4 linked regions of the Homo sapiens genome follow. The protein of the gene in region 3 interacts with the protein of the main gene of each other region in a pairwise test. Each region holds a gene or a part of one and is shown on either strand. Other genes may lie near its edges.

Region 1 (7,034 bases), on a different chromosome or scaffold from region 3:
GAATAGTATTCCATTGTGTCTATGTACTACATTTTCTTTACCTTTTCATCATCGATGGACACTTAGGTTGATTAATGTCTTGACCATTGTAAATAATGCTCCAATGCACATGGGAGGGAAGATACCTCTTTAACATACTGATGTCATTTCCTTTGGATGTATACACAATACTGGGATTGCTGGATCATATAGTTATTCTATGTTTTGTTTTTTGAGGAACCTCCATACTGTTTTCCATAATGGATGTACTAATCTCCATTCCCACCAACAGTGTACCAGTGTTCCTTTTTCTCCCCATCATCATCAACACTTGTTATCTTTTGTCTTTTTGGTAATAGCCATTTTTACAGGTGTGAAGTGGTATTTCATTGTGGTTTTGATTTGCATTTCCCTGATTAGTGATGTTGAGCATTTTTTTCATATACCTGTCGGCCACTTCTATGTCTTCTTTTTAGAAGTGTCTCTTCAGGTCCCTTGCCCATGCGTCCGTTTTAATTGGATTATTTGATTGCATACTATTGAGATGTTTGAGTTCCTGTGTATTTTGGATGTTAACCAAAATCTTGGATCTTTTGGATATTGATCTCTCATCCTGTATGTTGTCTCGTCACTCTGTTCATTGTTTCCTTTGTTGTGCAAAACCTTTCTAGTCTGATATAATCTCATCTGTCTATTTTTGCTTTTGTTGCCTGTGCTTTTGGGGTCATAGCCAAGAAATCAATGCCCACACCAACGTCATGAAGATTTTCCCCTATGTTTTCTTGTAGTAGTTTTACAATTTCAGGGCTTATGTTTAATCTTTAGTCCATGTTGAGTTGATTTTTACATATGATGTGAGATAAGGGTCTTATTTCATTCTTCTGCAGGTCAATATCTACTTTCCTCTACATCATTTATTGAAGAGGCTGTCCTTTCCCCATTTTGTGTTCTTGGTATCTGTCACAATCAGTTGACTGTAAATGCATTGATTTATATCTGGGTTCACTATTTCATTCCATCAGTTTATCTTCGTTTATGCCATTACTATTCAGTTTTGATTACTATACCTTTGTAATATATTTAAGAATCAGGTAGTATGATGCCTCCATCATTGTTCTTTTTGTTTGTTTTGCTTAAGATCACTTTGGCTATTTGAGGTCTTTTGTGGTTCCATACACATTTTAGATTTATTTTGTCTATTTTGGTAAAAAATGTCATTGGAATTTTAATAGGCATTGCATTGAATCTGTAGATCACTTTGGGTCATATGAACAATTAAGCAATATTGAGTTTTCTAATCCATGAACATGTACTGTCTTTCCATTTATTTTTGTTACTTTCCGTTTCTTTCATCAATATTTTACAGTTTTCACATCTTCCACCTCTGTCACAAATTTATTTAAAAGAGTTGCTGCCTTGACATCCATTTTTAGGCCCAATGTAAGTTGTTTAAAACCCAATCATACCACAGCATCTTTTGCCCAATTAATAATTCCTTTCCCTGTTCAATTGTTTTTGATCTAGCACATTTGTTCATCATCTCCCTGACCCCAAACCCAACACATCCCACAGGAGCTGACTACAATAAAACCTAATGGTTCACAGCAGAGCAGTGTGAACCTTCTTTGCAGGTGTTGTCTTCCACAATCCCTGTGGGAAAGCCTGGGGTATAATGCCCATGGATCTTTATAAAGGTGTAGTCCCACGGGTCCTCTCTCTCTGTCTCTTGCTCCCCACACACCGGTTAGTGTCCTCGGACTGGATAGCTCCCCACTTCCCGTAAGTGCTGCAAAGTGTGCTATCCTCTTCTCTCTGGAGTCTGTAAGTAATACACCACTTCTGTGTTTCCTGTGTTTTGTTGTGTTGCTTCCTCTGTGTTTTCCCTAATTGACACATCTGAACCTAACATCCTTCTCCATCTTGGCTCTCTTAAAGAGTGGCTGTCTCCTAAAGAGTAGAGATAACTTAAAACTGGACATAGGTCAGACAAGAGCCACCAGGTCTACTGCTAGTAAAAGTAATTGTCTTGTGGAAGGGACATGTACAAGATGAACACCCAATTAGGCATTAGACAGTCCACCGGGACAAATAAGTTTCCTGTGAACATCCATGATGAAATCTCCTGGATCCCCCCCAGGGCAAGGCTAGAATTTATAGCCACTCTACAGAGAGAAACCTCAAGACCAAATTAGAAAAAAATACAGCCACCACCTTGGTTAAATTTATTCCTAAGCATTTTTTTTGTAGCTATTATAAATGGGATTTTTCAGATAGTTTCTTGTCAGTGTATAAAAACACTACTGAATTTGTAAGTTAGGTTCATGTCTAACTTTATTTTACACTGATAACAATTTATCTTTGATCTCATAAAAAACTTGACACCTTTTCTTCTCCTGCCTTATTTTATGTTTTGTCATTATTTACGTCTTTTTATGTTGTGTATTCCTTAACAAATTGTATTAAGTATCATTTAAAAAAATACATTGGGCTTTTAACTTTTATAGTAATGATGTAAGTAATTTGTACACTATTATGATTGTATTAGAATATTCTGAACTTGACCATGTATTTAACCACCTAGTTTTATATTTTCGCATGGTTTTGTGTATCCAGTTAGTGTTCTGTTCTTTCAGATTGAATAACTCTCTTTAACATTTCTTGTAAGGCAATACATGCTAAAGATGAACTCCCCCCGTTTTTTTTTTTCTTTGTCTGATAAAGTCTTTACTGCTCTGCATTTCTAAAGGACAGGCTTGCCAGGTGTAGTATTCTTGGTTGGCAAGGAATTTTTCCTTTCTGTACTTTGTATGATTCCACTCTCTCCTGGCCTGTAGGTTTTCTGCTGAGAAGCCTTTGGTAGTTTTATAGGGGTTCCTTTGTACATTGCTTGTCTCTTGCTGGTTTCAAAATTCTCTTTGCCTTTGATGTTTGGGAATTTGTTTAAGATGTGTCTTGGTGAAGATCTCTTCATATTTATCTGTTAGGGGTTTTTTGGGCTTCATGAATGTGGATGTCCATTCCCATCCTGTTTTGGGACATTTTCTTTAATTATTTCTTTAATTACACTTTCTGTTCCTTTCACTTTCTCTGATGCTCCTTGGACCACCATAATGCATATATTGTTTTGCTTCACAGTAACCGTTGGTACTGTTGGCTTTCTTCCCTCTTTTTCATTCTTTATTTTTTTTTTCTTCCTGTGACTTGGTAATTTCAAATGATCTGTTTTCAAGCTCACTGATTCTTTCTTCCGATTAATCAACTCTGCTGTTGACATTCTCTGTGGAATTTTCTTAGTTCAGATATTGTGTTGTTGTTAATTTTAGAATTTCTGCTTTCTTCTTTATTATGTTGTCTGTGTATATTAAACTACTCATTTTGTTCATGTATTGTTTTCCTGACATGACTTAGTTGTCTATCCATATTCTCTAGTAGCTGACTGAGCTTCTGTAAGATGACTGTTTTCAAGTCTTTGTCAGGCTGTTGTAAATGTCTATTCCTTTCGGGTTGGTTACTTGTGCTTCATTTTGTTTCTTTGGTGCCGTCACTGTTCCCTGATTGCTCAGGAGCCTGTGGCAATATGTTGGAATGTGCACTTTGAAGAAGCAGGGACTTAATCCAGTATTTACAGACTGGCTTTGTCAGGGAACGCCCTTCACCAGTCAGCCTGTTCACAGATTCTGGGCAGGCCATGTGGTGTGGTTCAAGGGTGGTCAGAGCCAGTATCCAGAGAGGTGACCTGAGGCCTGGCTCCATGAGGGCTGAACTGGCACTGGAATAGGCCTTGTACTTGGGTCTGCAGATGTCAGCCAGGTGCTGTGATGGGTCTCATCCTTGGGTCCACAGGGAAGGGCCTGGAGCCTGAGTTCATGGGGACTGACCTGGCACTAGGACAGATCTGGAAGCTGAATCTATGGAGGTGGGTCAGGATCCTGGGTCTGTAGTGCTAGCCCGAAGGCACAAGCTAAGACTGATATCTTAGCTTATCATGCCTTTATCATGCCCTTATCTCTATGTGTTTCCAGACTTCTGTTTCCTGCACTTTCTGGTTCTTTATTCCATAGGGACATGTTGGATGATTTCTGTCAGTCAGGCACCGTGCTAATGGGATAATTATAAGAGGCCCTGCCCTCGTGGAACCTTTTCTCTGGGATAGTATTAAGACACACAGATCAAAATAACAGTCAGAAATTCCTGATAGGAACCATGAAGAAATTAAGTGATGAGTGAGACAGAGACGAGGTTGGTGGGGCCTCTCGGGGATGGTGATTTTGGCCAGTCTCCAAAGCTGGACAGGGATAGTTGTGCAGAGAGCCAGAAATGGTGCTCCTGAGCAGCCTCCCTAGGAATGACAGTCCCAGGGTGCAGGCGCTGGGGGATACCGAGCAGAGACGGGGCCACCATAGTGAGTGGACAGCAAACAGGTCAGGTGGACCAGCATGGGCAGATCACATGTAGATGAGGTTGGATTTTATTTTGTTATTTTATTTTATTGTTAAAAAAAAAAAAAAGTAGACTGGGCGTGGCATGGTGGCTCACGCCTGTAATCCCAGCACTTTGGGAAGCCGAGGAGGGTGGATCACCTGAGGTCAGGAGTTGGAGACCAGCCTGGCCAATATGATGATACACCGTGTCAACTAAGAATACAAAAAATTAGCTGGGCGTGGTGGTGGGTGCCTGTAATCCCAGCTACTCAGGAGGCTGAGGCAGGAGAATCGCTTGAACCTGGGAGGTGGAGGTTGCAGTGAGCCAAGGTCGCGCCATTGCCCTCCAGCCTGGGTGACAAGAGTGAAACTCTGTCTCCAAAAAAAATTTTAAAAAAGATAAAATATTTCTTTTCTTTTCTTTTCTTTTTTTTTTTTTTTTTTGAGACAGAGTCTTGCTCTGTCGCCCAGGCTGGAGTTCAGTGGCACAGTCTCAGCTCACTGCAAGCTCTGCCTCCCGGGTTCACGCCATTCTCCTGCCTCAGCCTCCCGAGTAGCTAGGATTACAGGTGCCTGCCACCACGCCCGGCTAATTTTTTGTATTTTTAGTAGAGATGGGGTTTCACTGTGTTAGCCAGGATGGTCTCGATCTCCTGACCTCGTGATTCGTCCGCCTTGGCCTCCCTAAGTACTGGGATTACAGGCGTGAGCCACCGTGCCTGGCCAAAAAAAGATAAAATATTTCAAATATTTATATTGATTACATATTGAAATGTAGTGTTTTGGATATTTTTAGGCTAAAAAATAGTTAAAATTAATTTGACCTCATTCTTTGTACTATTTTAATGTGGCTTTCATAGAATTTGAATTTTGCATGTGATTTGTATTATATTTCTGTCAGCAGTGCCAGTCAAAGGTATGTAATAGTGTAATAGATGCAGAATTGATGACAAGACCAAGCCAAGAAGAGCAGATTTCTCTGTCTGGATTCCACTGAGGGCCAAAAGAGAAATTTGCCAGCCATTGTCAGCCTCTGGGAATTCTGTGGTGACTCATTCATTAACTTTTCTCTCCCTTCCCAGGATCTCATAGATCAGAATATACTGGAGCCTGTAACCCGTGCACAGAGGGTGTGGATTACACCATTGCTTCCAACAATTTGCCTTCTTGCCTGCTATGTACAGTTTGTAAATCAGGTACAGAATGTGTGGACCCCTTGCCCAGAGGTGGAGTGCATAGTGATGAGGTGGGAGCTGTAGCCGATGTGAGTCGGGGAACCAAGTTCTAGCCCAACTTGGTAGTCTTCATCATGCCCTGTTCCATGATTATGACTAGTTGATTAAAAAAAAAAAATAGAAATCTTTTTTTTCTTTTCTTTTATTTATTTATTTTTTTGAAGACAGTTTCACTCTTGTTGCTGAGGCTTGAGGGCAATGGCATGATCTTGGCTCACTGCAACCTCTGCCTCCCAGGTTTAGTGATTCTTCTACCTCAGCCTCCTAAGTAGCTGGGATCACAGGCATGCACCACCACACCCAGCTAATTTTTTTTTTTTTTTTTTTTTTTTGGGAGACGGAGTCTCGTTCTGTTGTCCAGGCTGGAGTGCAGTGGCGCGATCTCGGCTCACTGCAAGCTCCGCCTCCTGAGTTCACGCCATTCTCCTGCCTCAGCCTCCTGAGTAGCTATGACTACAGGTGCCCGCCACCACACCCGGCTAATTTTTTTTTGTATTTTTAGTAGAGACGGGGTTTCACCGTGTTAGCCAGGATGGTCTCGATCTCCTGACCTCGTGATCCACCCACCTCGGCCTCCCAAAGTACTGGGCTTACAGGCATGAGCCACCGTGCCCAGCCAGTTTTTTGTGTTTTTAGTAGAGACAGGGTTTCTCCATGTTGGCCAGGCTGGTCTCGAACTCCCGACCTCAGGTGATCCGCTTGCCTCAGCCTCCCAGAGTGCTGTGATTACAGGTGTGAGCCACTGCGCCTGGCCAAAATCTTTTCTGTAATGCATGCCACCAGGCTGGGAAATCTTCTAAACTATTGCCTGCAGCCGGGTGGGGGCATCATTACAGCATAGAGGAGGCCTGGCCCAGTGGACAGGGCTGGGTTCCAGCAGTGGCACAGGTCTGCTCCGTGGCCAGGCTCTCTCCTCCCGGGCTCTGTGCTCCTGAAAGGTGCTTGGCCTCACTTAGCCTTCAGGTTCTCAGGCCCCTTCCTCTTCCCCAGCAAGGCCGGGGCTTTTGGGAAGTCCCCCAAGGGCCCCTCTCCTTGCAGAGTCTCTCAGGTGATGCCCTTGCGCCTCCCTTGCTACTGACCATGCCATCTAAACAATGCTTTTCCCCTAACCTGATATAATAAATAATGAATCACGGTCCTTTTGTATTGGTCCTTACATACAGGGTGGGTGTCCTGTATGAGTCCCGAGTGTGCTGGTGCAGAAACCAGCCCTCAGAACTCCTTGGTGAACTGAGTTGAGCTGAGTGGGAGGGGATGGGGTGGTGAGGAAGGGTGGACAGACATGTCAGGGAAACACATTCTCAAAACCTTATGCTCTGTTGTCAGGTCAAACAAATAAAAGTTCCTGTACCACGACCAGAGACACCGTGTGTCAGTGTGAAAAAGGAAGCTTCCAGGA
Region 2 (6,923 bases), on a different chromosome or scaffold from region 3:
AAAAGTATAAATAACAACAGTATTCTCATATAGTCAGTAAGACTGTTGGAGAATATTTTTGTAAGACAGTAATAATTGATTAAAATTGAGGTATTTCTTCTCTTAATAAATATATACATATACACATATATATTTTGAGACCTAGTTTTGCTCTTGTTGCCCAGGCTGGAGTGCAATGGTGCAATCTTGGCCTGCCACAACCTCTGCCTCCCAGGTTCAAGCGATTCTCCTGCCTCAGCCTTCCGAGTAGTTGGGATTACAGGCATGCACCACCACGCCTGGCTAATTTTGTATTTTTAGTAGAGATGGGGTTTCTCCATGTTGGTTGGGCTGGTCTCCAACTCCCGACCTCAGGTGATCCACCCGCCTTGGCCTCCCAAAGTGCTGCCATTACAGGCGTGAGCTCCTGTGCCCGGCCTTCTCTTGATATTTTTAAGGTACCAAATTACTTCAACACTCAGTCTCTGCAACTCAGATCTTTAAAAGTAATCAATATAATTACCTAAGATAAACTAATCTTAATTAAAATAGTAACAAATACAGGAAAAAAAGGCACTTCACATGTAACATCACTTAACATTTATATAATTCTTTACACAGATTTAAAAGGTACTTTTACCTACTTTGTTTATTTCCCCCTGAAAACCAGTGGGTATTTGTTATCTTATGTATTTTATTAGTAAAGATACTGGCTCTCAGTAAGATTTAGTAACTTAAACCTATAAACAGCCCAACCCGGCCGTAAACCAGAACAAGGGTCCTTAAATTACACTAAGCTGCCTCTTAGTTGATGGAAAAAGTGTTATCAATGTTATGTTCATACTAGCAGTTTACAAACTTTATCAAATACTTTATTATATGAATTAATTTATTCAGAAATAGGCCTGGCATAGTGGCTCATGCCTGTAATCCCAGCACTTTGGGAGGCCAAGGCAGGAGGATCACTTGAGGCCAAGAGTCTAAGACCAGCTTGGACAACATAGTGATGATACCTGATCTCTACTAAAACAAACAAAAAAGAAAGAAAGAAATAGTTATGTTGGATGGAGACCAGAAAGTCCCTACAATTAGCTCATCATACCAACACTTACTAGGTATAGTAGTAACAACTTCTCCCACTTGTAATCTGTACAAAATTGTGGTTTTTCCTGCTCCATCTAATCCCAAAATTAAAATTCTCATTTCCCGAGTTCCAAACAGACTGGAAAATATACTTGAGAAAAAGCCACCTAAAAAATAATAAAAGAAAAAACATACACAATGTCATTTTGTGAACTAGGTATACAAAACATCTAACCTTGTCCTTTGAGAGCTAAATACCAAATTAAATATTATAATTTCCTGGATGCGTAGGTGCATATTTTTCCTCCCAATGAAATATATTATTCAATATCAAACAAGTAATTAGTTATGTTACTATGTCCTTAGTTATGTTACTATTGTGTCATGCAGGCACAGAAGATAAACCAAATAATAAGAGAAATATGGCCGCGGCCTTTGGGAATCTCATTTTCTAATCAGCAGAATAGGAATATTTTAGCATGATCCCCTCACTACCCCTAAAAACCAAGGGGCCAGTAAGGAGGATAGTGGGACAATGTAATCCTCGCACAGGAAAAGTACTGTACAGCAGCAGTACCACTATAACCAACTTCAATCAGAGTTCTCCACGAAGCAATATAGCTAGTACAAGAAATTGAGAAAAAAGCTGAAAACAATAACTATTTTTGACAAAAAACCCACTTTTAAAAATAATAAAGCTCTATCCAATGCATCACAAAATATTCCCAGAAAGCTTCCTGTACACCAAGTATTGTGTAGGATAAAAAGCACAGTCCTTTTCCCATCCAGAGCCATTAGAGAAGATTAAAAACAAGTTACATTAATACAAAAAAAAATAGTTAACATCAGAAGTGATGCCACACTGTTATTTGGCAAAGACATGGCATAACTAAGAGCTGCGAGTTGAAAAATGAACAACACCATGGGCTAGAGAACCTTGGGAAAGTTCAACAGAATAGGTGTGACTTGACAAAGTCCTTTCTACCATTTACAGGTAGAAGAGAGGCGGAACAAAACTGAAGGCGGTTATGGAAGACAGGACAGCGCCTGTGATGCTTGGGAGCAAGAAGTATGCTCCCCAGAAAACTGTGGAGGGATTTAACCAAGCCAAAGAATCTGCACCTTCATTTGGAGGGTGAGAAACGAGTTAAAGAATGTGCACCCTCACTTGGGTTCTAGCGGGGCGAGGGTGTTACCTGATGCTTGTGAGAATGCAGTTCCCTCAATCAGCGGGCCAAGAACCAAGAATAAAGTTTCATTTGCCGACTAGAAATACCCGTATTATTACATGAAACGCTACAGCAGATTAGCAGACAAATGCCAAACTGGCCATAAAACAACATAAGCAACACCTGCTCTCAGGTTTTTCAAACTGACGCCGTCCCAGCGCCCCTGGTAAAGAGAATGATTAAGCTTCCACTCTGGGGCCGCAGCTCATCTTTCACCAAGAAACCTCGGCGAACCTGCGACTGACGCGTTGCCAGCCTCCGCAAGAACAACTCTGCCCAGCAAGTGGAGCTGGGGATGAGGGAAAACTTCATGATAAGGGTAAAGAACTCGAACCCAGGCTCTGCGGACGTCCCCAAGCTGTCCGGGTCCCTGGACCCCGCAGGAATCAAGGGGAACCGAGAGAGGACGGAGGAGAACGCGAGAGGCCGGATCCACCCCTACAGATGAAGATCCAAAGTGAGTCAAGTCCTCCGCGACCCGCCCCCTGAGGAGCTGGCTACTCTAGGGTATCCTGGCCGGCCCCTCTCCTCCTCTGCACCCCAGCCCTCGGCCGCGGCTCCCTCGAGCGCGCCCAGGTGCCCTTCTCGAACCCCTCACCCATGATGAACCCCCTGTCCTCCCTCGCCGATCTTCAGTGATTCCTTGGCCTTCGGCTGCAGCTCCGAGGCGGTTTCCTCGCAAGCCCAGTCAGCCAGCAACTTCCACGTCGGACTCCAGGCGGGGGCGGGAGCGAGGGTCAGCTGCGACTGCGCGCCGGGAACGGTGGCCTGAGCATCCGCGTCGTCGCTTTCGACTCACGGTCCCCGCTCACTGGATGTAGATACCGTGGAGGCCAGAAGAGACGAATAATTCAAAAACCTGAAGTCTCTCCTGCTTGTGTTTTTCTGGACAGAAAGAGCTTCTGAAATAGAGAAATTGGAATTTTTGTTTTAAATTCTGACACCAAAAAGTGGCGAATCTGACAACTGAAAATGCGAGTCGGGCCTCGATGAGTCGTCCCGGTCGAACGCTGGCGCAGGCTGCGGCGTTGCAGAGGACGCGTGTCCCGGAGCGCCCTGCGGGGCCAGCCCAACTCTCCCTAGGTGCTTTCTCCCAGAAAGAAACAAGACTACGTAATAATAATAGGAATGGTACCGCGCTGCCAATGCGGAGCAGCCTTGCACCTGAGGCCAGTAACCAGAGGTTTTTGTCTTCGCTGTGGCCTGCAGGACGAGGACCTCGCCGGCTTTTTTTCTCGCTGACCGAGCAGCTGAGACCGCCTTTCAGGGGTCGGCAGTGTGGACTGGCTGGTCCCGATCGTGGGGACCAGGGACTTATTCCCTCGAGGGTCGACTGTTGGAAGTAATGTAGGTTTTGATAGTGAAGTGTGTGGAGAGGAAGAAGGAAGCACACCTATAGGATGTGGAGAAGGGATTTCCCCTAGAGAAATTTTTAAAGGTTGAGCATGTATGTTTTGAAACTTCCCAAAGATCCATTGAAAAGTGAACCTTCCGGCCGGGCGCGGTGGCTCACGCCTGTAATCCCAGCACTTTGGGAGGCCGAGGCGGGCGGATCACGAGGTCAGGAGATCGAGACCATCGTGGCTAACACGGTGAAACCCCGTCTCTACTAAAAATACAGAAAATTCACCAGGCGTGGTGGCGGGCGCCTGTAGTCCCAGCTACTCAGGAGGCTGAGGCAGGAGAATCACTTGAACTCAGGAGGCAGAAGTTGCAGTGAGTCGAGATCGTGCCACTGCACTCCAGCCTGGGCGACAGAGCGACACTCCGTCTCAAAAAAAAAAAGAGAAAAGTAAACCTTCCATCCCTAATACCCTGTATCTCGGTGATCCCCAGTAGTCACTACTGTTAATACTCTCTTAGGTTTTCTTCCAAATCTTATTAATACCTTTGCATATTATGTTTTTATTTATGGTAGAGATTTTCATCCATTCAACAGAAGCTTATGGACTGCCTTTTTAGTTTATTTTAAAAGAATTTTTCTAGCTTTAAATAAAAATTGTATATATTTACAGTGTACCATGTGATGTTTTCATAGTTGTATATGTTGTGAAATGATAACATACCCATCACCTCACATAGTCGTGTGTGCTTGTGTGTATATGTTTATTTTGTGCTAAGAATATTTAAGGTCGGCCAGGTGTCGTGGCTCAGGCCTGTAATCCCAGCTCTTTGGGAGGCCGAGGCGGGCAGATCCCTTGAGCCCAGGAGTTGGAGTCCAGCCTAGGCAACATAGTGAGACCCCATCTCTACAAAAAAATAAAAAAATTAGCCAGGCACAGTGGCACTTGTAGTCCCAGCTACTTGAGAGGCTGAGATGGGAGGATCACTTGAGCCTGGGAGGCAGAGGTTGCAGTGAGCCAAGATCCCGCCATTATTCTGCTCTCATTCTATGAGTTCCACTTTTTTTGACTCTACATATAAGTGGGATCATGAAGTATTTGTGTTTCTGTGCCTAGCTTATTTCCCTTAGCATAAATTCACCCATGTTGTCACAAATGACAGGATTTTCTTCTTTTTAAAGGCTGCATAGTATTCATTATATATATAAATATACATACATATACCACATTTTTACATTTCACGTTTTCTTTATCCATCAGTTCACTCTTAGGTGATTCCATACTTTGGCTATTATGAATAATGCTGCAATGAGCATGGTGATGCAGATATCTCTTTGACATACTGATTTCATTTTCTTTGGATATATACCCAGAATATATGGTATATACGTATATATTGTATATATGGTACATATGCATATATGATATATATGGTATATACTATATGGTTTATACTGTAGTTCTATTTTTAATTTTTTGAGGAGCCTCCATACTGCCTTCCATAGTGGCTATACCAATTTACATGCTCACCAACCATGCCTATCTTGGTTTTGATTTGTTTGCAGACTCCACTAGTTGTCTAGGTTCTGAACTAGTTTTTGCCTCTTGCTCTCATCCTTGCCCCCAAAACCACAGGTTCACGGAAATTTTCCTGCAAGGAAAAGTTTTGTTTTGTTTATTTTTATTTTTGTTAATGGTTTGAGAAGGGGAGAAGGGCTCTACCTAAACACCTGAACCTTTCTAAGGCTATCCTTTGTAAGCACTGTGTGGTCTAATTATTGGACCTCTGTGCTTATGATTCTATAATACCTCCTCTTAAACAAGATTAGTTTGCTGCTGCTTGAAAGATCTTGGCCATTACTACTTCAAACTTAGGTCAATGTCAGATTTATATTTGAGTATGATGTGTGTAATTCTTGAAAATACAGATTCCCTTTAAAAGAGAACTGAGGCGGGGCACGGTGACTCATGCCTGTAATCCCAGCCCTCTGGGAGGCCGAGGTGGGTGGATCACCTGAGGTCAGGAGTTCAAGACCAGCTCGGCCAACATGGTGAAACCCTGTCTCTACTAAAAATGCAAAAATTAGCCGGGTGTGGTGGCAGGTGCCTGTAATGCCAGCTGCTCGGGAGGCTGAGGCAGGAGAATCTCTTGAACCCGGGAGGCGAAGGTTGCAGTGAGCTGAGATCGCACCACTGCACTCCAGCCTGGGCGACAGAGCAAGACTCCATCTCAAAAAAATAAATAAAATAGAACTGAAAGGAAAAATGTGCTGTAATATAATTGTGTATTCAAACTACATATTCTGAACCAGATAAATGAGATATATATCGCGATGCTTTGTAAACTGAAATACTATATACAAATTTAAATGTATTGACAGCCTTTCAGAATCTATATTAAGCACCTAGTTACAAGTCACTGTGGAAATAACAGTGTAATAAAGACTAAAAAAGACCCATTAGGCATTTTGATCAAAAATTCTCATTTTTCAAAATTTGATCATATAATGCTTTGCTTTGTTAGTAAAGAACTGACCTAATTCCCTACAGGCATTGAAAACAAAACAAAGGCCAGAGCAATGGCTCATGCCTGTAATCCTAGCACTTTGGATTGAGGCGGAAGGATAGATTGAGGTCAGCAGTTCAAGACCAGCTGGGCAATATAATGAGACCCCGTATCTAAAAAAGAAAATTATTTTTGTAATTAGCCAGGCCTGGTGACACACACCTGTGGTCCCGGCTACTTCGGAGGCTGAGGCAGAAGGATTGCTTGAGCCCAGAAGTTTGAGGCTGCTGTGAGCTATGATCAAGCCACTACGATCTAGCTAGGGCAACAGAGCAAGACCTTTTTGCTAATAAATGGATAAATAAAGTGTTGAGACATTGAATAAAGAGATTTAATGAGCCAACGCACATGAAATAGAATAGTTATCAACACATAATACTCAAGGTTTTTTAAAAAAGTATTGAGAGCTTGTTTCAGCAGCACATACACTAAAATTGAAGAATACAAGGAAGATTAGCATGGCCTCTGCACAACAATGACATGCAAATTGAAGTGTTCCATATTTTAAAAAATTTTAAAAAAGAATAAAAGTGTTGAGACAAATTTATAATTAACAAAGTCATAAATAGCCAAGAGAAACTTAGCTAATCTTTATTGGTGATTACATCCCACCTCCACCACTGCTTCTCTCAGTTTATGACCACAGCAAGGTTCCTACTTTTATAGGAACGCAAATGCATAAAGGTCATGATAAGGTGTTGAAAAATAAAATAACAAAACTGC
Region 3 (7,034 bases):
TCTTCCACTTTTAGTGTACTCGACAGATTATCTCTGAGAAGCTAGGCCGTGGCTCAAGAACTGTGGACCTTGAACTTGAAGCTCAGATTGATATATTAAGGGATAACAAGAAAAAATATGAAAATATTTTAAAACTGGCTCAAACATTGTCGACCCAGCTTTTCCAGATGGTACATACCCAAAGGCAACTTGGAGATGCATTTGCTGACCTGAGTTTGAAGTCACTAGAACTTCATGTAAGATTATTCTAAATAACTATTAGGGATGGGAGAAAATGATAATAGAAGTATTCTAAGAGGTAATTTGTTATTGTGATTTGCTGAACTCTTAATGAAGATGGAATTCTGAGATTCTCTTTTAAGATATTTCATATCACTTTAAGAAGGCCCTCTTAAAGTGATATGACTTCTGTTAACTTTACTTTTTATGAATTATCATATGTATATAAATCTTTCATATTTTTCTTCCTGTTTGTTAATATTTTATTTTGCCTTTTACTCCTTAATCAATATCAAGGGTTACTGTTGTAATATGTTCTGTTAACTTTTTCTAAAAGTTGTAAAAATGTTGTTTTCTGTATTATTCTATTTCCAGTAACATTTATGTAGACTTCAGTGAAGTGTGTAACTTAGCTTGTGGAAATTTGGTGCCAAAAATCTTAAGCTGTCCTGCTTTTCATTTTAGTTTTTACATGCATTGATTGGTAATCTTTTTATGTGGTCCTTTATCTGCCAATATTTGCAACAAATCAAGGTCTATAATATTTTGAAGACTGAGTACAGAGTGGAGTTACATGGACATCTCTTAAATGGAAAATGGTTTTAGCATAATAAGGATAATTTTACTTTCCTGCTATTTTCTGAATTATTGAATACTTTGTCACCTAAGAAACGTAATTACAGCTATTGCAATAGCATTAAATTTGTATCTTCTAATATTTTAGTTAATTTAATATTACATTATTTGTTTCAACTGAAATTGAAAAGTGTTTTGTAACAAACTGGAGAATTATCAAATTAAATGATACATCTTAGAATATGTGATCGGTTTTTTATTTGGTTAGGTGCATCCTGATTAATCTGTTAATTAGTAAAACTTGCACTGGAAAGCTTTCACTGCTGAATATACAGAGCTAGAGTTAGTTCTTGCCATATCTGAAGGAGTCATGTGTAATGTTTACTGCACCAAGATGCAGTTTATTCAAAAAGAATGAACTAAAGCTGGTGTTGAGTGATCCTTCCTCAGTTGTGTGCCTAAATAGAGCTGAGCTTGGGAGTCAGCTAGTCACCAAGTTTACAAAGAAATATGTATTGTTAATATTTATACTTTGAGGAGAATCAGTCAAAACACAAAAAAAATGCACTTTGTTTTATGTCTGAAAGTTTTAACCAATTATTACCTAATTTGGCTGTGAAAGTTATAGTTTCTCTGATTAATAATCTGCTCTATTTTTCTTTCCAACAGCTGTGCTTATAGTATAATAGAAACAAAATGTAGAAATGAAAATATTGTTTCTACTACAAAGTAACTTAAAAAAATTATTTAGCTTTTAGGTATGTATCTGAGCTGATGACAATTTTGGTTTATTAGACTTTTTCAGTAATTATATGGCTAGCTGTGATTTCGATTCTTAAAGACGGAAAGGAAAAGTAAAACTGCTACAGCTAGATCTCTATCTAAATCACATATTTTCCCATTAGTGACGTGCTTGAGATTTTTAAGTCACTTTTACTGATTTATTACTGAATAAATTAAGGTGACTTCTTTGTTTTAGGAAGAATTTGGCTATAATGCCGATACCCAGAAACTGCTGGCTAAAAATGGAGAGACTCTTCTTGGGGCCATTAATTTTTTCATTGCTAGTGTGAACACTTTGGTGAATAAAACCATTGAAGATACATTAATGACTGTGAAACAGTATGAAAGTGCCAGGTAAGGTATACATTTTCACTGTGTTGTCTGTTTTACAGATGGCATATAATTCAGTTAATTTTTTGGTTACAAACAACAGAAACCAACTCTGGCCAATATGGGCAGGAAAAAAATGTACTGGAAAGTTATAGGATGCCTCTACAGACCTGGCAGAAAGGGAGAGAACAAGATTCTGGAAACAACCAAGAACCAAAGCCAAGTTAAGCCTCAGAAGAATCTAATTAGAACCCCTATGCTGGGTGCCTCTAGTACTTGATGCTGCCACAGCTACCATAAATAATTTCCTAAATACCCATGAATACTTGCTTCATTGCCTTGAGATTATCTAATTGAGCCTTGGTCATGTGCCCAAACCCTGCCTTCTAGTGAGTAGGGAAATGGAGGATCTCCCAGCTCTGGCTTCTTTAGAAGAGGACAGGGCCCTATGTTCTACCAGGTAGGTATTACATGGTCCTCTATACTCTCGCCTAAATTTACCTTTCATCCTTATTACCACTGCTTCCACAATAGCCAGACCCATACTTTCAGTTTCTATTGAATAAATAAGCTCATTTTGCCTCCATGATTTTTGTTTGTTAGGATATCAGTCATCTTCCATTTATCCAGATTATAACAAGCCTTCAAACCCTTTCAAATTTTACCTTTTATATAAATTAAATATTTGACTTGTATTTTGATAACTGTTCATAATGCAGTGTTTTTATACATCCTATTTTAATGGGTTTTTGTATATCCATATTCATATATATATGTATATATACAGTTTCCCTGTCTCATAACTATCCTGTTAAATGGTGAACAAAATATATATTAATAAATATATTAATAAATATTTTGAAGGGTCTAAAATATGGCAGACCTATAATAGCCTTTTTCACCTTTTGATTCCAGGCCCAATTTTTTCCCCATATGCCCTACCCCTTTTATTTAAGTATCATTCTAGTCCCTTTTGAGGTTTTTTTCTTTTGAGCACTCAAAATTCTTATTTTCCATTATACTTTTTATGCATAGTTGAAGATAAACTTTACCTTTTAGAAGGATAACTTTACTCTTTGGCCTCTTATCCTAGTTTAATGGTATGAGAAATACCTGTAAAAAACTCCAAACTCATCTAGTATTTTTGCAATTGAGTGCTTATTAAATATATATTTCCTTACACTTCAATTAAGTAAAAGCCCAAATCATTTTGAAAAGTTAATTTTTGATGTTTTCACAGGAAGAGATGCTTCTGTCCCATACCATGTTTATTTTGTCATTTTCCATTTAGTATTAAAGTATGAGATTCTTATTGACTTGAAAATGAAGGTCAAACAGCTGTGGTTGTATGGAGGGGTAAGGGTGAGGATAGCTGTTAGTAAGATAGCCTTCCGTGGAAATCTCTTCAATAACATTCTCAGTAATTGGTGTTTCAGTCTCAGTGTAAATCCTTTCATGGAAATTATATTTTTCAAAGGGTTCATTATGTATATGAATTTTAAAATTCATTTATATAAGTTTTACTTGATCCTTTTCTAAATTTTTCTGTTCCTTGTTCATAATGTCCTAATTTGTTCATAATGGTACTGTTTCTTTTATCTCTAATCATTTTAAATATTCATATTTTCTAGTCCTTCTGATTGTTTTAACATGTATGGGTTTTAAAGATGGATATTGTTTTCTTCCAAAAATACCCCCACCACCTCCTAGTTGAGAACTTTGTGAATCTAGTTTCTCTACTTTGCAATTGTCTACCTATCCTGAAATATATTTTCGTTAATAATAATCTCTTTCCCTTCAGCTTTTATTTCTAAACAGTTTATAATTAATTTGTAGAGGAGAAAACACTCTAGAGGTTAAATGGTTTGCTCACTTGTAGTCAATTTCAAAGGCAAAATAAGAACCCATTGGTTCTCTATGGTTCACATTTTATCAGTAGGCCTTATACCTGAGTATTAGTGCCCTAAGTATAATGTGGTATAAGATCTCAGATTATAAAATACAGTATATAGGTTCATTTGGAACTTTTGAACAAAATTATAAATCAAGTTACATGTACTTGGTGGCTGGTTTCTTAAGGGAAACCCTTACACAGCCTCTGTGTGTACTTTAAAAAACAACAACAGTAATGTTGTTTTTGTTTTATGTCATCCCGTAATTTATCCTTTTTTATTCAAATTACAATGTATGATCTTATTCATTAAGCTTAGCTTGGGGTTTGACTTTTCTGTTGTTTATGAAATAGCTGTGGAATTGGCTAGTTGTTAACACTAAAACCTTGCCTACTGATGGATAATAGTCAAAAAGAATCCAAGGTTAAAAGTTTTTCAGTAGCTGAATTTCCTTCTCTGTCAAAGCCAGAATTTACTGACTTTTAGGGCAAGGGTCATCTATTTGATCAGTGCAAAAAGTGGTAATTTAGGCAAATGCCCGAGTGGCCTTTTAATCCTCCCTATTATGCATTGTGTACAAGTATTTCCTAGCCCTCTGGTGCTTCATGTATAGAAAATCTTGTAACAGCCCATTCAACACTTCTCCACAGCAGCACCAACAAGGGAGTCAATTGTGGTCGAGACTTTTCAGATGTGGACACCTGTTCTCTAGAAGTTTTACATAAGCCATAAAGTAACCGTCACTAACTTTGTTGATACGGACTCAGTTCAGACGGGCAACCTTGAAGTGAAGTTGCTTTTTGAAAACTTAGTGAGCTTCTCTTCTTGGTGGTAATGAGCACTGTTAGAGAAGCTATTATGGAAAGTTTTACTTTGGTACCACCTACAAACTCTGAATGTAAAATTAAGAAATATAAGGTCAGTATTATAACTTTGAATATGTTTGAGTTAATCACTGTTGTTTAGAAATGCGCTCCAAGGCTATTGAAGGATATTTGTCCTTAGATTAAATCACCATGTATTACTATTTATTTAGTTCTACTTTTTTCTCTTTTATTTCCTATTGTTTTTAGTGTGCTTGCTTCTAGATACCCCTCTTCTAATTTGGCCATAATAATAAGCATTCTAAAGGTATCAGTTATTACCAGGTATCCTGTGTGTTTTATCTATATGAAGTTTTTGTGGAGATTTTTGTTCACATTTATAGATTGAAAAACTGGAGCACAAAGAGATGAAATAACCAGCTCAAGAATAGAGCCAAAAGGCAGAGAGGTCATTCAGCTTGGCTCCTGAACCCATGGATTTAACTAACTAGTTATTATTGCCAAGTCAGTCTTGCCTCCTAAATCTTTTGTATTTGTCTCCTTAGCTCCAATGCCTTTGTCCTGATTCAGTGACTCATTTCTTATATGTCCATCGTTTTCTAATAGGTTTCCTTGCTCCTGATTTTTTAATCATTTATTCTATCCTCCATCTCTTACACTACCACCAGGGTCATCTTTCTATCCTGATACAATCATGTCATTTTTATGTCAGATCAACATTCTTCAGTGGCTTCCCATTACTTCTCCTACTGGATTAAATTTAAACACTTTAACATGGCCTGTAGGGCTGCTTACTTTCAATCCTGCCTGCCTGTCTAATGTTAATTCCTTCCATTGTCATGTTCCAGCTTCAGATTCTGACATACCGAATTCCCAAATGTGTCATTGTATCTTACAAATCTATGCCTTTGTCCATGCTATTCTCTTCAGAATCAGAGTATCCTACTGATTTCTGTATCCCAATTCACCTAGCCAGCTTTTACCATCCTTCAAATTTTAATTATAGTATTTTAATTCTGTCTGAGATACCTTTTCAGATATCTAATTAAATAATTATTCCTCTTGATTTCCATTATACCTTACCCTCATTTATGGTAGTTCTTATTATCTCATTTTGTTGTAATTGTTTACAAGGTTCTCTTCCTCTAGAATGCGAGCTTCTTGAGGATAAACATATCTGTTCATCTTTATAGCTCTACTTTCTAACACAGTGCCTGGAACGTGGAAAGTGCTCACTTGAGAATTGTTGAATGAATCAGTGTATCAGTGAATGAATGAATGGTTCTCTTTTGACCCTGAAAGAGGCCAATTAAATTAAATCTTAACTCATACTGCTAAATTCAGTATGAGTTAAGAATAAATTAGGATCAGTGTGAAGGACTGATGTATTCTTTCTCAAGTCATATATACAATATAGATTATGTTATTTAAAGTATTGTTAATTCCCAGAATAGGAGATGTGAATTATACACCTAATATCTCCAAATAAAGAGCTTTAGTTTTAGGGTATAAGCTTTGTGATTCTGATCTTGACTAAATTAGAGGTCACTTTGCTTCTTCTTTGCTGAGTACCGAATAGTTGAAGCTGCTGGATAAATCACTGTTTAATAAGCAAGATAGTACTATACTTAGACAGGCACTGTGATAGAGCTATTATGAGGAGTTATGGGATCTTGGAGTGATGACAGTGGTGGGGTAACTATTTGAGTTGATGGGGGGAGAATATCAGAGTGAGGCATCTTACAGAACACAGGATGGTAAGTGCTCTACAATAGATACTGTTGTTACATTCTGAATACTGATGTTACAGAAATTCATCTAGAGTTGTGTTGTCAAGTATAGTAGCCACACATGTCTGGTGAGCACTTGAAATGTGGCTAGTCTGAATTGAGATGGGATAGAAGTGTAAAATACACAGTGGATTTCAAAGACTCACTACCCACTCTCCAAATGTAAAGTACCTATGAATAATTCTGTTACATTGATTACATGCCACAATGATTAATATTTTAGATATATTGGGTAAAATGAAATATATTGATAACAGGTGAAATTAATTATTATTTCATTGTAACTACTAGAAAATTTTAAATTACATGTGTTACTCACATTACATTTTTGTTGTGCATTGCTAACCCAGACTTTTTTCAGAACCATTTACACTTCCGTTAGTTTTAGTATGCCATTCTAGAGTCTGCTGTCCTTACCTGCTTTGCCTAATCAGTACTAAGCAATTCACTTGGGGTATTTATTCTACCCTTGATCTTGTTTTGACATTTATTTTTTTTAACTGGTTTTTAGATTTTGGAAATTTTACTTGTCAGTTAATACTGTGCTTTGAGAGAAATAGTTAATGAGATTAACCAGCAGCTTTGTTCTTATTTAAATAGCTCTTTGTTTTTAAAGAAAT
Region 4 (7,477 bases), on a different chromosome or scaffold from region 3:
CTCAGTCTGGGGAGGGGCAGGCGAATGTCCCCCGGCTCCATCTTCCTCCCCTGTGTACTTCTCTGGGGCCATCGGGGGTCCCTGAACCCCCTCACAGGAGGGGCAGGCACCTTCTGCCTCTGGGGCTGATGCCAGCAGAGCTGGGCTTTCCACCCTTCGGCAGAAGAAGCGGGCGATGCTCTGAGAATCCTTGTGGGCCGCTGTGGCTAGGAGCTGCTGTTTCTTGCTAGCCCGGCCCTTGGCAAGGGAGCTGCCCCCAGAGGAACTTTTTGCCTTCTTCTCAGGGGAGGGCCCCCCATAGTGAGCGCTGCCTCCAGGGACCTCCCCTCTGGGCCCAGGGAGGGGCTCACTCCCATCCTCATCCAGGAGGCCACAGGGCCGGCTCGGGGGCTCGTGCTCGCCTCCCCGCTCGGGCTGGGGGGCTTGCTCCCTGATCCGAGTTGTCTCCATCAGTTCCGTGGCCGTCTGGAACGGGCAGGAGCCTTTGGGGAAACCAGCTCCCACCCGCTTGGGTTTGAGCTGTAAATGTGAGCAGGAGGAGAGGAGGTTCAGCCCACTAGGCCCCCTTGAGGGCACCGCTGGCTGGAGCAGTAACTCACATTGGGACGGGGCTCTCAGGAGTGTGGGAGGGAAGAGGCAGGCAGGACCCTGGTGGGGAGCCAGGCCTTGGCAAGAGGTGCACCCCTGAGGGCAGAGGGGAAGTGAAGCCTTTCCTGGTCACAGGTCTGGAGGCCACTGGGCCACAGCTCACCGAGTACACATGGGAGGCTGGTGGAATGTCATACTCATTGGGCTCCGGGGGCTCAGCTTGGGCACTGCAGCTCTTGGCACTGCCTCCCATGTCATAGGGCTGCCCATCCTTGGAGGCTCTGTGGATATCGGCCACCTGGGCAGGGATAGGCAGGGAGGCTGTGGCACCCGCCAGCTCCTCCTGACATGCCCCACCTAGCCCTCCTTTTCTACTAGGCACTACAAGTGGGTTTCTGTGGCCAGTGGCCACAGGCAACTGACCACTGGGCAAGTTTTAGGCCTCCCATCCTCACAGGGTTGGCTAGAAACATGTCCAGCCAGTGGAGAATGGAGCTCTACCCCCATAAACTGTCTCTGGGGTGGGCTGGGGAGGGTGAGTTCTGGGCTGCCTGAGCCCAGAGAGCTGGCAGACAGCTTCTGCGTCAGAGTATGGAGGGGCCCCTGCAACGACCCTGGGTCCGCCTGCACCAGGCCCACCTTCTTCAGCACGCTGGCCTTGTAGAGGTTGGCCACCTTGGCGTTCCGGAATGTCTCATGTTCCAGCTCCACGGCCTTGGCCCGGAGGTCAGCTCTGTGGGTGCAAGGTAACAGGCACAAGGTATCAGGTGGGCCTGGGCTTCTCCCTGCTGAGCTCTTGCGGGACTCCAGGCCTGGTGGGGTAGGCCTTGGGCACAGGGATTCTGATTAGGGCTCTCTGAGCACCCTGTGGCTTACTGTCCCTCAGCAGCTGCTGGTAGCACCTAAGTTGTAGCCATGCCTGGCCCTGGTGGGGTTGTAGGGGCAGTCCCCTGGAGTAGGAGAGGTACAATCTGGGGAGAGGTGGCCCAAACAGGCCAGGGTTGACAGGGTCCTGCAGTCTCCAAGGGAACGAGAGCTTGGAGTGCTCCTCAGCCCAGTGATCGTGGAACTCACTCATCAGCGGTACGTGTTGACTGGCGGTTGCTGCTCAGCGCCTCCTCCAGAAGCCGCAGGCAGTGCTCCCGTGCCTGGCACAGGACAGTGAGACTGGTCGCATGGCCTCGCGGCTGGGGGAGGGCCCCGGCGGGTGGCTGAGGAGCTGCCCGTCTCTTACCTTCACAGTCAGCCTGGGGATCCTCCTGCTAGAAGCCTCTTTCAGGGGACAGTTCTCATCTGTGGGGGGGGGGGGTGGTCCTTGGTCCTTTCGCTCCACCTTCTGCGCTCTGAGGTCCCCCACAGCCCGGATGAGAATCCTCCCTCCATGCCCCGGGAAGAGCCCACAAGCCTCCAGGAACATTTCTGTACTGACCTGGGGGTACAAATTCTTCTATCTTGGGGTCTTTGCCCTGGAGGACAACATGAAGGACCCATGAGGCGTCCTGCCCTGCCGCAGGACAGTCCCATCCAGCACCAGAGAAGGGGCTGAGAGGTGCGAGCAGGGGGCCACCAGGGGCCCCACACAGGCCACTGAGTGCCTCCCCTCACCTTGCGCAGCTGCATCTGCTTCTGATAGAAGAGGTTCCACTCCCGCTTGTGGGCCTCATCTCTGCCTTCATCCCCGCTGCCTCCAGAACCTTCGTCATACCTAGGGACAGGCCAGGCGTGAGTGGCCCTGGCCTGGGCTCTGCCCTCCCCATGTGTGCTGCTGCTAGAACGGCAATGTCCCTGATGTCCTACCAGCTCAAGGGGGGATTGCGGCATCGTGCCACCTCTGGTCTGGCCCTGGCGCCAAGGGAATGCCAGGCAATTCCAGCGGGTTGGAGCCCTGGCTTCTCGGCCCCTTACCTGCTGAAGTCCCCGTAGCCCTTGCGGCCTCCCTCATACAGCTCGGGGTCAAAGCCGTTCCCCTGGGAGGGCCCGATGCAGGTCTTGCTCCAGCTGCTGCTGCGCTCCAAGGCCTCCAGCCGCCTCCGCACGGCCGTGGGGTTCTGGCAGTGGTCGCAGCCTTTGGCGCAGGCAGGCAGCGCATCCCCGAAGTACTTGGCAATGGCGGCATGGCGGCACCTGGAGCAGGCAGCACCGCAGAGGTGAGGGGCGGAGAGCCCAGTCGGCCAGCGTCTGTTCACCCGAGCCTGAATCGCTAGCTGAGCGAGCACTGCCGCGTCCGGCACCATGCCGGGAGCCCCACACCCCTCATCTCATCCAAGCTGCACCAGGCATCGTTTGGCTCTCCCCACTACACAGATGAGGACGATAAGGTGAACCAACTTTCCCAAGGTCACGTAACACATGGGGGTCTCCCGGGAAGCAGGATGTGAACCCCACTCTGTCCAGTTACTCCTCTGCTCCTCCCCTCTGTCCTCTGGCAATGGGATGTAGATGCTGGCTCTGCCATGAAGGGTGTCTTTTGGGTGACACACTTCACCTCCTAAAGCCCATGCATTCCCGTCAGTAAGATGGTGCAGAAAGGCACAGCCCTCACGGACTGAGCGAAGATGGCTGAGGTGATGTCTGAAGTGCATTACAGTACAGTCATGCCCCATGGAATGACTGCACAGCCAATGGTGGTCCCCTACGATTCTAACACTGTATTTCTACTGTACTTTTTCTATGCTTATGTGTGCTTAGATATGTGAATACCACTGTGTTACAACTGCATACGGTACTCAGGACAGTAACGTGATGTACAGGTTTGTGGTCTAGGAGCAACAAGCTGTAGCGCATGGCCTGGGTGTGTAGGAGGCTGTGCCGCTTGATATTTTTTTCCTTCTCTTCCCTGGAATTGCTGTTTGATTTCCCTAAGTATACTCTGTGACCGCACAATGACAAGTTAAATTTCTCAAAACGTATTTGCATTGCTAAGGCAGGCACGGCTGTGTAGTAATATGTCCCATCATCAACCCGTGAGGGTGTCACAGGTGGGGCCTTTAGCCAGGGAGACGCAGCCTCGCCTGGAGTCCTCCTCTCGTCTTCCTCTGTCTCAACCCTGCTGCAGCCCTCCTGGGGTGAGCGGCCTCTGCCCATGCTGGGAGCAGGGAGCAGCCTCTGGCTGGCCCACGAGGCTCTGTCGCATCTCTGTTCCCTCTGCATGGGGGTGGCTGTCGACCCTTGGGGCAGCTGCAGAGGCCGCAAGAGGGGCCATAGCTCTCTCAGGCTCCTTATAAACAGCCATTCCTGCCACCAGGAACGTGGCACAGGGTAGGGAAGCCCAAGAGGAGATGCTGGAACACAGGCAGGGCTGTCTGGGGTGCCACATCCCAGGGACAAGAATAGCTGGCATTAACTGCTCTAACTAGAACTCCTCCCAGTGTGAGCACTGCTGCGGCTGCAAGAAGCCCTTTGAGGGGCTGCGACCCCAAGGCGCAGGCTCAAGGATGCAAGGCTGATTGCAACACCCCGGTAAGGAAGCAGGGCCTGGCTGACTTTCTTTTAGCTGAGTGAATGCAGCTCTGAAGCCTGACCTGGGCTGGGACAGCCGAGGCGGCCACCAGAGGGCGCTCCTGCCCCCACTCTGCTCCAATGAGTAAATGCAACAAATGGTTCATCCCCAGGAGTCCGTGCGCCCGCACAGCGGCCGCCTGTCCAGCCTCTGGGAGGCTCTGGCATCCGAGTGGTGTGACCACATGGCTGGCTTCCTCCCCCTGCCCTCCTCAGGCCCTGACTCACTGGGGTTTTGTGCTCGGACTCAAAGAGCTCCATTGACAGCGGGGCTGGGGTCGGTTTCTCTCCACACAGCCTAGCCTGCTGGGAGGCACAACCAGGCAAATGTCACAGGGCCCGGCCCCTGGACTCTGGAGCCCTGCCCTGACAGCTGGGCCAGGAGTGCGGTCACAGCCCCAGCAGAAGGCCCTCACCTCACAAGGAACATGAGGCGCCTTGCCGGGCGCGCAGGCCACTCCCAGGTCACTCAGGATTCCAAGTTCTCCCCCAAGACGCCTTCAGATGCTGAGCGGCACAAGGGCCTCCCCAGGGACTGGTTGCAAAGCCTCCTGCTCAGCTTGAGAGGGCCACCAGCTCCCCACTGTTTACTGTTGTTCCTGAGAGAGGCCAGAGGGAGGGACCAGCCAGGGAGTGGCCAGAGGGACAGAAGGGGTGGCCTTCCTGAGGGCAGGGTGGGTGCCCCAGACCTGAGAGCGCTGCAGGACTCCCCTCCACAGGCTCAGGTGGAGCCTCCCCAGGGTCCTCCTGGCCAGGAAGGCAGAGAGCCGACTTCTTTCTTCAGCTCCCAACCCAGGCCCAGCCCACGGCGTGGGAGTCGGGGAGAGGGAGAGGAGGAGGAAGGAGGAGGAGAGAGGGAGCTTGTCTTGTCCCTGAGCAGCGCTCTCAGGGCAGAGGTGAGGCACCGGGACATGAAGTTGGAGGACAAGTTCCCAAGCAGGGCTTCCTCGGGCTCCCCCTCGCGACGGTAATTTGACACTTGGATCTCCAGGACGACCAACAACAAAAAAGCCAGGCAGAGACAGCAGCTGGCTGTCAGCAGAGGAGCTGGGCTGAGGCGCCCAGGGGAGCAGCGGCGCCCACGAAGGAAGTACGAGGACAGCACGTGGAGGCTCCGCGCTGGGGCACTGCTGCTCAGCCCCCAACACCTGAGCTCCCAGGTGAGTGGCAATGGCCACAGAAGAAGGGGGGACAGGGAGGGAGCAGCAAGGGTCCCCTGCCCCCAGGGTGAAGGGCCACAGTCTACCATAAACACGGAGAGGTCTTCGGGGACATGCTGGGTCGCTTCCCTGCAGGGAAGTCAGCCAGCCTCCTGCACACACCTGCACTCTCCCTGCTGCTGGGACCCTGCACTAGGGGAGGGCTGGGGGCTCTGCTCAGAGCGCCTCCTGCTCCGCCTGCTGTGCAGCAGAGGGGCCCCGAGGGCCTGCTTATTCTGCAAGTTCATTTCAGCTCTTTTATTCAGGGGGCTTAAAAGAGGGATTTGGCTGTCCAGCTTGGGAGAGAATGGCTGCCGGCCTGCTGAGCCTCCCTTTTTCCCAGGATTAGGGCAGAGCCCTGTCGAGGTCAGCGCAGGGTCTGCCCAGCCAGCATGCGGCGCCCCCAGGATGCAGCAGGACTCTGCCCATCTGTGTCCTTTCAGGGGCTTGGCCCACTCACTGCTGGTGTTCTCAGCTCACGGCTCAGCCTGGGTCCTCCTCCCTGGGCCCATCTAGAACCCCATAAACTCCTAGATCTCCCTCTGGTGATGAGCCTTGAACACCAAACCAGGAACCTGGAGGACTGACTTTCAACTCAGGCTCAGGTGGGCAGAAGGTCACAGAAGTGAGGCTGGGAGGGACCACGCTGGCAACCGGGACCTCTGCTGTGCCACCGTGATGCACAGGCTGACATGACACCACCCCTAAGGAAGCAGGACCCGGCTGTTTGGTTCTTTGGGGAACACTGAGAGCAGCCCTCCTGGGCAGGGCCCGTGAGCCGAGGCTGCCTACTCCTCCTGCCGCCCTGTCCTCAAGCCAGCGTTAAAGCCACCACCCCCCATATGTTTTCCTCAAAGCAAACAAGCTGGCATCTAGTGAGAAACAAAAACAATGACCCAGGGAAATGTGGAAACCAAGGACTAGCCCAAGTGTTCTCAGCTCAGCAGAGGCTGGGGGCTTCGGCTGGGGCTGGTGTCTGGGGAGACAAGCTCCTGCGGTGTTGGGAGGCGCACAGTAGGGAAGAGTCAGGCCAGGTCGGGGTCGGGGCACAGCGGTGAGCCTGGAGACCCCAGTGGCTGTCACTCACAAGACGCCCCAGGCAGGCAGGTGGGGATCCCTGTCCTGCATCCACAGGACACGAGTGGACAGGGTCTCTCCAACACAGTCCCTGAACCAGGACGGAGGGTGAATGAACAGCCAGCTTCTGTAGCTGCAGAAAGAGCGCCTACTGTTTCTAACACCAGCAGCAGAAAGCGCTTCCTCCCGCCCTGGGTGGCTACAGGAGCAGGGCCTGCCAGGGGTTCAAGCACCACTTTCTACTTCCAGTTGGAGCCAGGGCAAAAAGGGGAGTCACCCAAAGGCTCAGTGCCACAAATAGGGGCATCCCCCCCGGCTGCTCAGGCACAGGACCCTGCAAATCTCCCACAAGTGTCAGTTATGCCTCCTTCTAGGTGGACCTCAAACGAGATAATGCCCAACAGGGCAAGGGTGACTAAAACCCACCATGACGAAACAACAGGGCAGAGCAAGCAGCCCTCTGGGGCCCCGCGCTGCCAACACACCTCGCTTATCAGTCTCAAACACGCCGCCTGCTGCCAGCCCTTCCTCGTGAGGCGCCTGGGGTTGGAGTATCAGCTCTGCGAGGAGGAAACAGGGAAGCTTCGGGACCAAGTGGCAGCTGTCTGGCCTGCGGGATGCCTGCCTGTTGCAAGGCTCCGTGTGCCAGGAGATGCCACATAAAGGAATGCTTCCCATCCCTCCGGCTCTGCCAGCCTTCTCTGCCCTGAGTGTTTCCCCTGTGCTGACCGCTACTGCAGCCAGGGCACACCCTCTGAAGGCTCCAAGCAGGGCTGGCTGGGCAGCCTGGGCAGCAGGAGGGCCTGGTGGCAGCTGGGCTACACTCCCTCTTAAGGCCAGAGGGAGCCACCACTTGCTCTGGCAGCCACTCAGGAACCCCTGAGGACCCTGAGAAGCCTCCAACCAAGGCACTACTGAGCGTGGGGTTGGGAGGGACTCTGGTTGCCCTGGTTCGCAGGTGGGCACTACCAAGCGTGGGGTTGGGAGGGACTGGTTGCCCTGGTTCGCAGGTGGGAAGTGTGGTTTTGGAAGGAGTTGGGTGAACCTGAGATAGAAAGACGGGAAAAATATGGGATCATCAGTAGCCCTCCTGGGCTTCCCTGCCTTCCTCCTGC

The links.
Region 1: the proteins of ARFIP1 (region 3) and TNFRSF10D interact in binary tests that used the Homo sapiens proteins (3 or more experiments, as listed by UniProt).
Region 2: the proteins of ARFIP1 (region 3) and ARL1 interact in binary tests that used the Homo sapiens proteins (3 or more experiments, as listed by UniProt).
Region 4: the proteins of ARFIP1 (region 3) and SMIM5 interact in binary tests that used the Homo sapiens proteins (3 or more experiments, as listed by UniProt).

The regions. Positions count from the first base shown.
Region 1 is NC_000008.11:23,147,000-23,154,033, reverse strand, and holds part of TNFRSF10D (tumor necrosis factor receptor superfamily member 10D precursor), read left to right. Parts: intron 1-5,482; coding exon 5,483-5,596; intron 5,597-6,961; coding exon 6,962-7,034. UniProt on the Homo sapiens protein: Receptor for the cytotoxic ligand TRAIL. Contains a truncated death domain and hence is not capable of inducing apoptosis but protects against TRAIL-mediated apoptosis. Reports are contradictory with regards to its ability to induce the NF-kappa-B pathway.
Region 2 is NC_000012.12:101,404,753-101,411,675, forward strand, and holds the start of ARL1 (ADP-ribosylation factor-like protein 1), read right to left. Parts: upstream 3,021-6,923; 5' UTR 2,894-3,020; coding exon 2,890-2,893; intron 1,230-2,889; coding exon 1,092-1,229; intron 1-1,091. UniProt on the Homo sapiens protein: GTP-binding protein that recruits several effectors, such as golgins, arfaptins and Arf-GEFs to the trans-Golgi network, and modulates their functions at the Golgi complex.
Region 3 is NC_000004.12:152,880,949-152,887,982, forward strand, and holds part of ARFIP1 (arfaptin-1), read left to right. Parts: intron 1-14; coding exon 15-236; intron 237-1,774; coding exon 1,775-1,932; intron 1,933-7,034. UniProt on the Homo sapiens protein: Plays a role in controlling biogenesis of secretory granules at the trans-Golgi network. Mechanistically, binds ARF-GTP at the neck of a growing secretory granule precursor and forms a protective scaffold.
Region 4 is NC_000017.11:75,628,957-75,636,433, forward strand, and holds the start of SMIM5 (small integral membrane protein 5), read left to right. Parts: upstream 1-4,477; 5' UTR 4,478-4,502; coding exon of another isoform or gene 4,503-4,982; 5' UTR 4,983-5,077; coding exon of another isoform or gene 5,078-5,246; exon of another isoform or gene 5,247-7,477. Other genes in the region: RECQL5 (ATP-dependent DNA helicase Q5), read right to left, coding at 1-519, 752-886, 1,228-1,321, 1,663-1,736, 1,823-1,881, 2,018-2,054, 2,194-2,293, 2,494-2,712.